Linked DNA regions of Homo sapiens: region 1 is linked to region 2. Evidence: fine-mapped expression QTL. A gene starts in region 2. The other region holds a variant in brackets. All regions are shown on one strand. Distances are between the middles of the regions.

What was found. PIP is the estimated chance that this variant, and not a neighbour inherited with it, causes the effect.
Region 1: its variant is the best candidate, but not a certain one, in a credible set for the expression of ZC2HC1A in whole blood (TOPMed, PIP 0.80).

Annotation. Positions count from the first base shown.
Region 1 is chr8:78,790,376-78,794,779 of GRCh38, forward strand. All of the region lies in intron 2 of IL7 (interleukin 7), which reads right to left. Among named protein-coding and RNA genes, the nearest start is that of MITA1, 12 kb to the right of the region's middle. RefSeq lists a silencer at 746-946. The variant T/C (reference allele first, on the strand shown) is at 2,524.
Region 2 is chr8:78,663,762-78,668,165 of GRCh38, forward strand. ZC2HC1A (zinc finger C2HC-type containing 1A) reads left to right here and starts at 2,328. Exons shown (of 9, transcript NM_016010.3): 1 at 2,328-2,403. The coding sequence starts at 2,388. It overlaps LOC105375911 (a long non-coding RNA gene), which reads right to left and starts at 2,218. Exons shown (of 4, transcript XR_007060972.1): 1 at 1,244-2,218. RefSeq lists enhancers at 1,451-1,959, 1,960-2,467, 2,432-2,481 and a silencer at 2,142-2,361.

The DNA of each region.
Region 1 (4,404 bases), 130 kb after region 2:
GTACCTGATATTTAATTCATAACAAATTTCCAAAGAACATATGTTAAAAAAACAGGCTTCCTAGATTATTCAAAATTAGCTCTGGGTTTTCATTAATTTATGGTGTTGATTAACAATCCATAAATTATTAATTAAACATTTGAAAAACTACTACGTGTAAGATGCTGGGCTAATAGTCTGTGAGATACAAAGATGACTCAAACATAAAATCTGTCCTTAATATACATATGGACTAGTACGGGGAAATAAGACACATACTTAGGTAAGTATACAAGGAGTGGAGAGTTAGAAATCATAGATAATTTTAAAATAAAGAAAAAATTCCATTTGCAATAGCATTAAAGAGACATAAGATACTTAGGAATAAATTTAACAAAAGAAGGGTAAAACCTATATTCTGAAAACTATAAAATATTGTTAAAAGAAAATTTAAAAGATACAAATAAATGGAACAAAAATCCCATGTTCATGGACCACAAGCATTTTTAAACATTATTACGAAAATGATGGTCCCAAATTAGTTTATGCATGAACCAAAACAATCTCAAAAAAAAAAAAAGTAAAATGATTCATATTTCCCGATTTCAAACTTATCCAAAGAAAGAGTAATAAAGACAGTTTGGTACTGACCCAGGACAGATATACAGATGAACAAAATGGAATTGGAGAGTCCAGAAATAAACCCATACATCTCTGGTGAAGTGATGTTTGATGAGGATGCCAAGATTATTCAAGGGGGAAAGACAAGTTCTTTCTTCTCCAAGTATCACTTATTTGTGGCTTTATAGGAAAACTATTTCTGTATCAATTTCACACCAGTCCCTGATCCCTCCCACCTTGGTGCCCAAATTGAACCATCTGAAATTTTATTATATAGATGTCACTACATAAAAATAAAATTATATATCAAAAGTAAGAAAATAAGGGAATTATGAATGGAAAGATGTTTTAAACAGATAGGACAATTACAGAGTTATACTTAGGCCAAGCACAGTGACTCATGCCTGTAATCCCAGCACTTCGAGAGGCTGAAGCAGGCAGATCACTTGAGGTCAGGAGTTTGAGAACAGCCTGGCCAACATGGCAAAAACCCATCTCTACTAAAAATACAAAAATTAGCTGGGTGTGGTGGCACATGCCTGTAATCCTAGCTACTTGGTAGGCAGAAGCACAAGAATTGCTTGAACCTGGGAGGTGGAGATTTCAATGAGCTAAGAACACACCAGTGCACTCCAGCCTGGGTGATGGAGTGAGACTCTGTCTCTAAATAAATCAATAACATTATACTTAATATATTATCATGTGCTCTTACCAAATGATGAGCATATCATCAAAATCTAATGGGAGAATGAAAACGGATCTTGAGAGCTATAAGGAAGAGAATACTCTTAAGCTCCCCACCACTTCTCTACAGTCTGTCATTACTTCTGTCCATGCCACTCACTGGACCATACTTACTAGTATATGGAGTCACATGGTTTAGTAATTGCTCAGAGATATGACATCACCAGAGAGATTTAGATTGCATTTAAATTATAAAGCTATTTAATATACTAATCCCTAAAAAAAGGTAGTCAATCCATAAAATAAATATCAGCAATTTCATCAGTATAAATGATTTTAAGAAAATAAAAACATAATTGAAAGACAAAACTGATTTCAAAACTAAACACCAAGCTACAGTAATTGAGACTGTCTGGTCCTGGCATAGGGATTATATATCAATGGATTACCATGGAGAGGTCAGAAATAAACCCATACATTTGAGTTCAATTTATTTTCAACAAGGGTGTCCAGACATTCAATGAGGGAAAATATAATTTTCAATATCAGATGCAGGAACAACTGTATAGCCACATGAAAAAGAATGAAGTTGGACCCCTACCTCACACCACGTACATAAATTAACTCAATATGAATCAAAGACCAACATGTGAGACTGAAACTATAAAGCTCTTAGAATAAAACATAGATGTAAATCTTTGTTGTCTTGGATTAAGCAATAGTTTCTTTGATATGAAAACAAAAACATGGGCAACAAGAGTAAATGAATTGGACTTCATAAAAGTTAAAAATGTCCTTCAAAGGACACTATCAAGAAAATAAAAAACAATACAAATGATGGGAGGAAAAAATATAATATCTGATAAAGGTCTAAGATCCAGAGCATATAAAGAACTCTTACAACTATAAAAATGAAAAGACAAATAATCCAATTTAAAAGTGGGTGAAAGATTTGAATAAACAATTCTCCAAAAGAAGATATATAAAATGGCTGATAATAACAGCCAATAATGAAAAGATGCTTGACATCATTAGTCATCAAGGAAATGCCAATCAGTATCACTATGAGATACTACTTCACACCCACAGAGATAGCTAGAATAAAAAGTTAGATGATAACAAGCTTTGGTGAGAAAGTAGAAAAATCAGAGCCTTAACTGCTGATAGAAACGCAAATGGTGCAGCCTCTTTAGAAACAGTTTGCAGTTTCTCAAAAAGTTTAACAGAGTGACCATATAA[T/C]CCAACAATTTGACTACTAGGAACATATCAAGACAATTGTATAAAAACTTGCATAGCCAAACAATGGAAAACCCAAATGTCCAGAAATTGATGAATGGATAAACAAAATGTGGCATATCCATACAACAGAATTTTATTGAGCCATGAAGAGAAATGAAATACTAACTCCTGTTATCATATGGATTAATTTTAAAAACATTATACTAAGGCAAACAAGATCAATACAAAAAGCTGCATATCATCCATATGAATTATATACAAGACAGATGTGAAATGTCCAGAATAGGCAAATTCCTAGAGACAGAAAGCAGAATGCAGAATAGTGGCTGCCAGAGGCTAGTGATGGGGAATAAAGAGTTACTGCTAATGGGTAGAATATTTCTTTTGGCAATGATGAAAATATTCTAGAATTAGATAGTGATAATGATTGCATAATTTATTGCAGGCATACCTCAGAGATACTGTGGGTTTGGTTCCACTGCAGTAAAGCAAGTATCACAATACAGTGAGTCATACAATTTTGTTTGGTTTCCCAGCATATAAAAGTTATGTTTACACTATACTGTAGTCTATTATGTGTACAATAGTCTTATGTCTAAAATAACAATGTATACATTTTAATTTAAAAAGAATTTTTTGCTGAAAAATGCTAACAATCATCTGAGCCTTCAGGGTGTTGTAAACTTTTTTGCTGGTGGAGGGCCTTGCTTCAACGTTAGTGGATGCTGACTGATCAGAGTGGTGGTTGCTGAAGGTTGGGTGGCTGTAGTAATTTTTAAAATGAGGCAACAATGAAGTTTGCCACATAGATTAACTCTTTCTTTCATAAAAGATTCCTCTGTAGCATGTGATACTGTTTGAAAGCATTTTATCCACAGTAGAACTTCTTTTAAAATTAGAGGCAATCCTCTCAAATCCTTCCATTGCTTTAACAACTAATTTTGTGTAATATCCTAAATTTTTTCTTGTCATTTCAGCAATGTTCACAGCATCTTTACTCAAAGTAAAATCATTTCAAGAAACCACTTTCTTTGCTCATGCCTGAGAAGCAACTCATCATCCATTCCAGTTTTATCCTGAGATTTCAGCATTTCAGTCACATCTTCAGGCTCCACTTCTAATTCTAATTCTCTTGCTATTTCTACCATATCTGCATTTACTTTCTCTATTGAAGTCTTGAACCCCTCAAAGTCATCTATGACAGTTGGAATCAACTTCTTCCGAACTCCTGTTAATGTGGATATTTTGACCTCCTCCCATGAATCACAAATGTTTTTAAGGACATCTACTACAGAACAATGAATGCTGTTCACAAGGTTTCAATTCTTTGCCCAGATCTATTAGATGAATCATTATCTCTGGCAGCCATAGCCTCAAAAATACATGGCTTAAAAAATAAGGCTTGAAGGTTGAAACTACTCTTTGATTCACGGGCTGAAAAACAGATGTTATATTAGCAGTTATGAAAACATTAATATCCATCAGCACTCTTGGGTGACTAGTTTTGCATTGTCAATGAGCAGTAATATTTTGCTAAAACTTAAAGTCACCAGCTGCATTTGTCCCTAACAAGAGAGTTAGTTTGTCCTCTTAAGCTTTGAAGCCAGGCATTGACTTCTCTTCTTTAGCTATGAAAGTTCTAGATGTCGCCTGTTTCCAGTAGAAGGATGTTTCATCTACATTGAAATCTGTTGTTTAGTGTAGCCACTTTTACCAATCATCTTAGCTAGACCTTCTGGATAACTTGCTGAAACTTCTACACAGGCCAAAATTGCTTCTTTACTACTTCCAGAACACCATTTACATCTTTTTGTTTCTGAGCTTGTTTTACAACCAGTCTATTTGTTAGATGATAAGCAGACATCTAACAAACAGGAAGTC
Region 2 (4,404 bases):
GATCACATGGCAGGTAGAAAAATTATGTACAGGTAAGTGCTTAAAAACATGAGAAGAAGCTGAGTTTCATTCATTTGAGTAACTGGCTAGTGATAAAATGGACTTGAAGCATAGAAGGTACTCAACAAACATTTGTTGAATGAATGCATGCCGAAAAATGGATTAGACTGGAGAGGAAGTAATGTCATGATACAGTGCCAAGACAAGACTCTCAGGCTAGGTATGTAGGCGGCAGAGGAAAGAACTTATTGAAGGCAGATAGGAAGAAGTCCTCTTTACTCAGGGGTCAGAATCAGGGAAAAGCTGCAGGAGCCAGGGTAGCTGTAGCGTAAAAGTTATGAAGAGACCAAAAGCATAAAAGTTATGAAGATACCTGTAGGGAAGACTAGCAATCATGTTTTAGAGAATTAAGATTCACAATAGAAATGCCTACTCAAATATATGTTAAACAACATGTCTGAACGCTTGGGTTTACACTTGAGGCAGCTATAATAAAAGGCAAGGCAAGGAAAGGGAGTGAGGAGCCCAATCAAATCACCATAGGCTTTAGAATTTAACAGACAAGAGTGTAGCCAAGCTCTACCATCCACTAATAATACAAATATTGACAAAATATTAATTGCTCTGAGACATCTAGAAAATGAACATTTTAATTCTGATAAATGAAGATTGTAGTATCTACTTTGTAGATTTCTTTTGAAGATTTGTGAATATATGAAAATGGCCTAAAACATGCCTCACATGATTTATTCTTTAATGCTATTTTTATTATTTTTAATGTTACTGTAGATTTTATGTCGAATAAGGTATCAGCCAACTCAATATTCGTCTTGCCTTCAGTGAAAGAACTTGTAATTTGTAAAATAATGGCTTCCTTATTTTTGTATTTTCTTCTGTGTGCTTTTTTTTCTCCTTAATGCTCTTTTAAAAGGCCTTCCCTCCCAACCAAAAATTCTACCTTTGCCTTAGTAGCACTAAGGAAGAAAAAGGACCTTTCCGCAGCACCCAGTCTAGAGTAGCTTATTGCCTGCAAGGCTATGGGTTGGCCAAGGAGGCCCAGGATCTCAGAGAAGCAGAAGAGCCAGGGGAACCAGGGAAGGGCGGAGGGAGTCATTGAGGCATGGTTGAAGTGGTCTTTACATGGCTCCACACAACAGATGGACTCTACCACATTCAAATGCACTTGGAGCACCTTCTCAGTAAGAGATGATGCCCCCTCAAGTGTTTGCTTGTTTAAACATACCTTCATGTGAGTGGAGAGTAGGAGGAATCCTGCTTCCTGAAGGTAACTGATTTCATAGTAGATGAAGTTAGATATGAAGTTAAACTCTTCAATTAAACAGATTAACAATAACATTAATCCGAGGTTTGTTATGGACAACACATTAATACTGGTAACTTGCCAGTAGATACGCTATAGTCAGCAAACAGTACAGCTTGTTTACGATTGCTAAATCAAATTTTCAAAGAAATGTAGTTCTGGTAATTGTAAGCAAAACCGTTAAAATGGTCTGAGTTAGTTTTGAAGTTACTTTCATCTTCAGGAGGTTTTGAACTCTGTTAGAGACGGGCGGGCCTCATTCTGTCAGGTTGTAGGTTAATTCCCCAACTCAAACTTCCCCGATCAAACATTGTCAGGCCAGGCGACTGTTTTGGTTTATGGATGATAAAGTATAGGGCCAAGGTAGGCCAAGAGTAGAAGACAGAGGGAGGGCTGGGTTTCACTTCTAATTTTTGGCCCAAGCTTTCATGGTGAGGAAACTGTTTTCAAGGGCTTAGAGCAATCGCAGTTCCACAATCGCAGATAGAAAGTATGATTTCTCTGGAAAAAAAGTGTCTTAACCTATGAAGCTGTGTGTGAAGATCAAGTGTAGGGGATACGCTGAGGTCAAGTCATGCGACCAAAGACCGGAAAACGGAGATTGCTGCATGCAAGCGTGCTGGGCGTTTGTTTGGTTTGCTTGCCTGCTTAAAGTATCCACTGGGAGGGATGGCGGCTAGAAGTCAGAGGCATTGACTGATTGAGGAACTGGTGAAGCGGAGCCCATGAGGTGCTGAGGTACTCTAAATAGGAGGATAAGGTATGAGGCAAAACAAGGCTGGAGTCAAACAAAGGCGCCGTTGCATCGCAGATTGCAACCTGAAGCGGCTCCCGGCTCCCTGGAGAGTAACCCGGAGAGACGGACAGGGGTGGCAGCCAGGAGGAGACCGCAGGAACCTCGCCTCCGCCGCGGCCCCGCCCCCACGGATCCCCGCCCCCGCAGTTGCGGAACCAATGGGAGCTCGGAATGTTAGCGGGTGGGAGGTGCGGCTGGGTTGCTACAGCCAGAGCTGGGCGGTGGCGGGCGCTGCTGAAGGAGTCTCGCTGAGCTCGAGGAGGTGGCGCGATGGAGGGACTGGAAGGTGAGGCGATGAAGGGATGAGGGCAGGACGGCTAGAGCGGGCCCGAAACAGCTGGGGACCCTGGACACCAGTAGCAGGAAGGCGAGGGCTGGTTCGGTGCGGCGGACCTCGCCGCGTCCCGCCGCGCCTCCGGAGGCTGGGGCCGAAGGGAACCGGACAGTCCCCGATGCGGTGGAGCTAACGCTACCAGGCTGCCCCGCCTCAGACGGTCTTCAACTGGGCTTTCCCGCCCGGAGCCAGATCCTGCCCCTGGCAAGACGCCTGCACGTCTCTTCCTACCATTTTCTGATCTTGCTTGACTCCTGAGTGCCCTTTTAGTGATCCCAGTCTCTGGCCAGATTTTGTTTTCCTTGTACTGGACTCTCTCCATTATTGTCCACGGCCTTAACACCAACAGGCCACTTTGTGCTGCAGCCCCGGGGTGTGTCTCCAGCCTCGAGCTCCTGACATTCCTTGGCCGATTTCCCTAGGTAACCGGCTTTTTACATTTCGACAGCATCTTCTGTCGGAGGGATGTCAGAGCATCTCCTAAGGAAGTGTCACTGGCCAGCTTTAGAGCCGGTACAATAGATTACCCGGAGGATTTGATGACTTATTCACGGCCGCTGTGTGAGGAAGAGCCTGTATTGGTTCCTTATCTTTGGGTTTATCTTTGTACTGTAACCATGACTCCAGATTTTGCTTTGTTCCCAGTTCTTTCACTTTTTCTCTATTCTGTTTACCCATTTTATCCTGTGTAATGAAAGCATTCACCTAAAAACAAAGGAAGGACAAAAACCACAATAACTAGCATTGGCAACAACAGTTTCAAGATTTTTTAATTTGTTATGATGAAGAACAAACCTTCAGAATTGAAAGATCCTATTGTCTTGATTTAGCTCCTTTCCCCCGTCTCCTAGTTTACACGGATTCAGTTGGAATTAAGAATGAGCAGAAGCTTTTGAGTCTTGTGTATTGTTGCATGCCAGGGAGTAAAATATTCTACATTGTGTGATGAAGTGCAAAGTGGTAGCCGGTAACTTTTTCAGTCACCTATTCACCAAAAAGCAGATGTAATAACATGAGTAGAAGTTTATTTCGTGCTTTTGCTCTGATAAATGATTCTGATAATTTTCCGTTTGTGGACAGCTGCAGTATGCTATGGCCTAATGAAGGTCTTGTTTTTTGCTTATGTGTTTTTGGAAGATAATTCAAGTTTCCATGAAATAAGGAATTGTAATGATAGTACAGTATATTTTACTTTCAAGATACTTTTGTATCTTGGTGGGATTAAAGCATGGGTTATGGAATTCTCATGAGATTATCATATATAATATGATAAGGTTTTATTACATATTATCTATAAAGTGTTTTGAACAGTTTGCAGATTTTTATTATTTTATTCAACATTTGTTATTAAGACAAAGATCATCATCTGATTTTTCACTTATGTATCCTAGGCACCTAAAACAATGTCTGACACAAAGTAGGTACTCAATAAATATTTGTTGTTAAATAAATGTCTATTATGGGCATCTTTTTAGGTTCTAGGTTGCAGCAAAGAATAAAAATGATAAAGCTTTACTCTCATCGAACCTACATTTTAGTGGACCTTACATTTTAACAGTGCTAAGATATTACTATTGAAACCTTACTACGAATGTTTTTAAAATATAATGGAAACCTATTATGACACTCAGTTGCATAGGTGGACAAAGGTAGGATTCTGTATTTATAGGCATATTTTATGGGTCCAGCTTATGATGTTATAGGGCCCAGCTTATGATGTTAATAGTGCTTGCCCTTTACTTTTAGATTTTTTTTTTTTACAAAATAAGATGCTATCATTAACTATAATGTGTTTAATTGTGATAAACTGAGTTGAAATATGTGAAGTTGCCCTAAATTATGTAGGGCAAAACAGTTGAATTCTGGTAATTTCAAGCAGTTCAATCTAATAAAAGCTCTTGAGAATTTTCTGTTGAAGTTAGGATGGTGCCTTTCTCTCCTTCCTCCTTCTCC